Homo sapiens: one gene and its partner. The protein of the gene in region 1 interacts with the protein of each later gene in a pairwise test. Each region holds a gene or a part of one and is shown on either strand. Other genes may lie near its edges.

The links. Proteins that work in one complex are often made in the same cells at the same time.
Region 2: the proteins of LIPC (region 1) and ADHFE1 interact in a two-hybrid assay, tested with the Homo sapiens proteins (one large-scale study listed by BioGRID and IntAct).

Annotation. Positions count from the first base shown.
Region 1 is NC_000015.10:58,438,491-58,441,990, forward strand, and holds part of LIPC (hepatic triacylglycerol lipase precursor), read left to right. Parts: intron 1-3,500. UniProt on the Homo sapiens protein: Catalyzes the hydrolysis of triglycerides and phospholipids present in circulating plasma lipoproteins, including chylomicrons, intermediate density lipoproteins (IDL), low density lipoproteins (LDL) of large size and high density lipoproteins (HDL), releasing free fatty acids (FFA) and smaller lipoprotein particles.
Region 2 is NC_000008.11:66,463,504-66,466,455, reverse strand, and holds part of ADHFE1 (hydroxyacid-oxoacid transhydrogenase, mitochondrial), read right to left. Parts: intron 1-2,952. UniProt on the Homo sapiens protein: Catalyzes the cofactor-independent reversible oxidation of gamma-hydroxybutyrate (GHB) to succinic semialdehyde (SSA) coupled to reduction of 2-ketoglutarate (2-KG) to D-2-hydroxyglutarate (D-2-HG).

The sequences.
Region 1 (3,500 bases):
AGGACCCTCCAGATCCCTGCCCAGCAGGCTGGACTTCAGTCCCAAGGTGATAACTAGAACAAGGGGGCCGAGCCTAGTCTGTCCAGCAGCGGGTGGAGGAGCCGCGGTAAGAAAGGCAGTCGGGTCTTACATTCAGGTACCTACTTGGGGCGAGAAGACCAAATCCAGTCACTCCAGCCCTGGAGGAGTCAGGGCGCCCACCCGGCTGCCCCACAGAAGGTGCAATTCCTAAACATGGTCACAAAGTAGCGCAGTGACATCTCAGCTGCTTCGGAGTTCCAGGAGAGGGTTTCTGGCTCAGGAGAATGGAGTTTCTGGGTGACTGGAAGATGAGGCTGTTGGCTAACTTCCCTTTCCTTCCCACTTAGGGGTCTATTTCCAGAAGCATTCCTCATTTCATTTTTTCCCCAGTGGGGCTTGGCTAGGGGTGGGGAGGCATGGGGAAAAAGTGAAGAGAAGAGAAGGAAATGCATGGAATGCAAGCGGAGGCCTCTTTGTCTACAGCGTTTTCACCTCCACTTGTGCAGGTTCATATTCAGGGCCTGGTGAAGTCAGTTCTGGCACGGCTCTCCAGTGGACTGGCAGTGGCCCTTAAAAATAGTTCTCAGGAAGATGTGTAGGTGGCGACGCTGAGTAGTGTTTATGTCCCAACATGAAGAGCAGGCCTCATTGTGTGTGTCCTGTGATTACAACTGTGTGAAAATACATGTGTTTGAGAAAAAATGCTGGAAGAAGATGCATGAAAATGTTTATACGTCCGTTGAGTTTGTATCTGAACTTTTGTCTCTTCCCCTCTTTATGTAATGTTATAGTATGTATATGGTATATTGACTTTCATGATTTAAATAATCAGAAAATAAATTTACTACGAAATGATAAAATAAAGGAGTTTGACTAGATCAGTGATCCTGGAACTGTAGTGGGTAATGAAGCACCTAAAAGGCTGCTTTTTTTGTTTGTTTGTTTTTCCTGAGACGGAGTCTTGCTCTGTCGCCCAGGCTGGAGTGCAGTGGCACAGTCTTGGCTCGCAGCAACCTCTGCCTCCCGGGTTCAAGCAGTTCTCCTGCCTCAGCCTCCTGAGTAGCCGCGATTACAGACACACAACACCACGCCCAGCTATTTTTTGTACTTTTAGTAGAGATGGGGTTTCACCATGTTGGCCAGGCTGGTCTCGAACTCTTGACTTCGTGATCTGCCCGCCTCAGCCTCCCAAAGTGCTGGGATTACAGGCGTGAGCCACCGCCCCCGGCCAGGGCTTATTAAAATAAGATTCTGGGGCCCTAACTACAGAGTTGCTGATTCAGTGAGCCTGGGGTAGACTTGGATATTTACGTTTCTCAGCAGTTCCCAAATGATGCTGCTGGTGTGGGGACCACAGAGAACCACTAGAGAAAAAACAAAAGAACCAAGACTTGAAACTAGGTTACTGACTTCCAGGCTAGGGTGCTTCCTACAGAAACAACACGAGGCTACAGGGCAAACCTCACTTCACTTCTAACTTTCTAGGGTTGAAGGGGTGAGAATCAACATCCACTGCTCCTGGATACTGACTTCTTCCCCAGTAGCTACAACCCCAAAAGTATTTAAAACCCCAAGATATTTGTGAAAATGTATTTGTCCAAAATAAAATATCTACATGCTAAAAAGAAAGCAGTCCTTGAAATGAACAAAAATTCCCAAGCTGAGCATTACTTGTAATTGGTAGAAAAATAATCATTGCAAAAGCTAATTAACCATCCACCCTGAGCGGCTCCTTGGCAGGCCTGAAAATATGATCAGGAAAATTCTTTTCCTATGAGTGAGGCATTATCAAAGCAGGGCAGAGCCTATGGGTTATCCGTTGACTAGGACTGACCTTTCCGTGACTGCCAAAAACTTTCCAGTGACAAATGTTCCAGCTTCCTTGTCCCAAGAGAAACTAAAGTGGTAAGAAAACAAACTGCTTTATACTGAAACATAACAAGATCAACAGCAGCTGTGACAGCATTTATTAAACTGTCCGCTGTGTACCAGGCCCCATGGTCAGTAGGAAAGTATATCCCTGAGGGTACAAAAATGAAAAAGCGTACATCCACTCACCAAGGACTTCCCACTGTGCCAGGGTCTCTAGCCCCTTATGGGGTGTGTGTGGGGGCAGGGAGGTTGGAGATTGGGAGAGGCGCATAATTTCAACACAATGCAATTAGTTTGTAAATAACACTACATGCAAAATGTTACAAGAGCCCTGAGGCAGCGCAGGTTAGCTGAGAAGCCTTTACAGAGGAGGTGATATCTGAGTTGAATCTTGAAGTTTCCTTCAAGAAGTGGAAGGACATTGTAAGCAGAGGGAAAAAAAACATGAACCAGCCTTGCTTGACTCAGAGGCTGGAAAAGGGAGAGTGAAGTTGGGAATTCTTGAGATTTTGGGGTGGCCCTGGATGGGGTACATAAAAAGAAGTGGCCAGAGGGAAGGACAGGAAGGGCCATCCTCAGAAGTTTTGTCCTCATCCTGGAGGCAGGGCAGACCACTGATGAGGGGGGTTGTTTTTAAAAGGCTGCCTTTCCCAGATGGATTGATAGACTTATCTCAGCCTGGCTAAAACCCTGGCCACTCCCTGATAGAGAACAAGGTTCCCAGCAGGCAAGGGCAGGGGTGGGGCCCAGCAGGGACCAGTTTTGCAAGCTCACCTGGCCCTACACCCGCAAACACTCAGCTTTTCCTCCAAGACAAGCCTCAAGGCTTGGAGCAAGTCTCTTTGAAGTTTTCTTATGAATTGCTATGCTTAACACTAAATCATGGGAAAGATTAACACCCATGAAACTGAAGCAGGAGCACATAACAGGAGCTTAATATGAATCTTCCATCTTAAAAATATCTTATTCTACATCTGAAAAGAGAACCATTTGGAAATTCCACGTCATACTCACTTATAGACTTAACAGCAATTTCAACTTTAAAAATTCATTCCCACCTGCATTATATGACTTGATTCTTACAGTAGCCCTGTAAAGAATATTGGGTAGGAATTCTTATTCCCATTTTAGAGACGTAAACATTCACCATCCGCGGACCATGGGGAACACAGCTGACATCAATTGCAAGTCAGTTTCTGTGGTTTACTGCAGCAAGGGAGAGCTCACTCCAGACTTGGGCTTGTGCTGGTTGAGTCTAAGGAAGGGGTGGAAAGCAAGGGGAATTCTGGATTGGATTCTGTCAAAAAGGAGTCCAATTCAATGATTCGGCATCATAATAATTTAATAGTTATCACTAATTATTATTTAATATAATCAATAAATGATCTAGCAGATGGGAAGATGAAAACAGGGCTGAGCTGGCTTTGATACAGCAACACAAGTCATTCCTGTTAGTCAGAAGAGGGAAATGTTTAGTCATGTTTTTTGATTTTGGAGTGGCCTCCTCCCTGTCTTGATGCAAACACAGATGTGGAGGGTCTGTGCTGCACATGTTTCTGTTCGGTGGGCATTGTCTCTGTTCACTTGTGAATATTATGGTCTGGCTG
Region 2 (2,952 bases), on another chromosome or scaffold:
TCTTAGAAGAATAATTAGGGAAAAATCTTTAGGAATATTGGCTTTGGCAATGATTTCTTGGATGTAACACCAGAAGCACAGGGAGTCCAGTGCGGTGGTCCCAGCACTTTGGGAGGCTGAGGCAGGCGGATCACTTGAGGTCAGGAGTTCGAGACCAGCCTGGCCAACATGGTGAAACCCTGTCTCTACTAAAAATACAAAAAAAAAAAAAAAAAAAAATTCAGCTGGGTGTGGTGGTGGGCAGCTATAATCCCACCTACTCAGGAGGCTGAGGCAGGAGAATTGCTTGAGCCTGGGAGGTGGAGATTGCAGTGAGCCGAGATTGCACCACTGCACTCCAGCCTGGCCAACAGAGCAAGACTCTGTCTCTAAAAGAAAAAAAAGAAAAAGCACAGGGAAAAAAGAAAAAAAAAAACAGATAAACTAGGCTGAATAAAAATTTAAAACTTTTGTGCATCAAAGGACATGGTCAAGAGAGTGAAAAGACAACAAAATTAAAAAAAATTGCAAATCATATATCTGATAAGGGATTAATATTCAGGATATAAAAATTATTCTGGTTGAGCACAGTGGCTCACACCTGTAATCCCAGCACTTTGGGAGGCCGAGGCGGGTGGATCATGAGGTCAAGAGATTGAGACCATCCTGGCCAACACAGTGAAACCCCATCTCTACTAAAAATACAAAAATTAGCCGGGTGTGGTGGTGCACGCCTGTAGTCCCAGTTACTCAGGAGGCTAAGGCAGGAGAACTGCTTGAACCCAGGAGGCGGAGGTTGCAGTGAGCCAAGATTGCACCACTGCACTCCAGCCTGATGACAGAGCAAGAATCCGTCTCAAAAAAAGAAAAAAATTATTCTTGCAACTCACCAACAAAAAACCTCAAACAGCTCAATTCAAAAATGGGCATAGGACTTGATTAGTTATTTCTCCAAAGAATATATATATATACATAGCCAATAAGCACATGAAAAGATGCTCACCATCCTTAGTCATTTGGGAAATGCAAATCAAAACAATAAGATACCACTTCACACCATTAGAATGGCTATTACACACACACAAAAGAAAAATAACAAGTGTTGTTGAGGATGTGAAGAAACTGAAGCCCTGGTGCACTGTTAATGGAAATGTAAAATGGTGCAGCCACTATAGAAAACAGTTTAGCAGTTCCTCAGAAAGTTAAACATAGAGTTACTATATGATACAACAATTCTACTCCTAGGTATATACCCCAAAGAATTGAAAGCAGGGACTCAAATAGATACTTGTACACCAATATTCATCGCAGCATTATTCATAATAGTCAAAAGGTGGAAACAACCCAAGTGTCTATCAATAGGTAAATGCATAACCAAAATGTAGTATATCCATACAATGGAACATTATTCAGCTATAAAAAAGGAATAAAATTCTGACACATGCTACAACGTGGATGAACACTAAAGGCACTGTGCTGGGTGAAATAAGCCAGTCACAAAAGGACAAATATTGTATGATTTCACTTACATGAGGTACCTAGGATAGGCAAATTCATAGAGACAGAAAGTAGGACAGAGGTTCCCAGGGGCTGTGAGAAGGGGAGAACGGGGAATTCGTGTTTAACAGACACACCACTTGTTTGGCATGATTAAAAAAAGAGTTCTGAAAATGGATAGTGGTGATGGTTGCACAACATTGTGCATGTATTTAATGGCATGGCATTGTACACTTAAAAATGGTTAAAATGGTAAATTTTATGTTATACATATTTTATCACAATTTAAAAGATAAGTTAAAGCAGGAAGAAAGGATAGAGGGACAGATGAGAGAGGGGTGAGGGACAATGCCTATGAGTATGGGTGAGGTAAAGACAAAGTTTCACATCCCAGCAGATTTTTAAGAGACCCTAAGGAATTTTGGAAATCCATAGCAAGGCAGAGGGTCTCATTATGTATGTGTTTGTGCAGGGTCAAGAACTGAAGTTCAGTGTTTGCTGTAACTGCAGATGATGGCAAGTTACGTTGTTCATAATGGGAGAGAGTCTTATCTGATGAGCTCAAAGGCCCTTGACATGATCCTGTTTATCTTTGGTGGAGCGGTGCAGGACTCTTAGAAGTATTTGAAGCCAAGCCTGAGCTGAGTTTCTGTTTCGCGTTTCTGGCCCCCAGTGATTGGTTAAACAGGACAAGGACATAAAGTTTGTGATATGTCCCTATACATATCAGCTCTGCCATAAAAAAGCTAAACTCTCTCAGAATTAAGATATGTTAAGCAATGATGTGCTATTATTTATAGGCATGTAAGAGTGAAGGACAACTCATTAACATGGGAACGAAATAAATTCAGACATCTACTTTTAGCACGTTCATGAAATAACAACATTTCAGCTGGCCTGTCTACCAGGGAGTGGAAGTGCTCATTTGGGTAGACAGCGCTCCTCAGTAATGAAATGTTTTGATTTGAAATGTAAATGTTTCTTTCCAGGGGTTTTAGAAATCCAGCTTGGAAGATTAATATATTCTTGCCTGCTCCCCTTGCAGCCTGGCTATGGCAGTTGAAAGCCTCTGTACACAGGGCTGCTATTAGCTGCCACCAGTATGGGCTGTGTTTGGTCAAGAATACTGGCCTGGTTGTTTCTTCCAGAGAAAACCAATCCTTCACTGCTGAACAGAAAAGAACCTTCATCAAATGTCAACTACATTGAATAACCTTTCTGGTGACGTTCTTTGGAGGAGCCAGTATATTCTTCTCACTACCTTAAATCCTGGAGATACTAATAAGCGAAGATTAGTCTATTGCATGTGTAAAACTCTGAAGTGGCCACAGCATTCCTGTAAAACAGTCACTGCCATCAAACAAACAAACAAAATTCCATAGTAGTTATTCATCTGCAAAATGGACAAGCTTATTTCTAAGATTCCTACCAAAGTCCTATCGATCTGTGAATATACACATATCTCAATCACGTAGA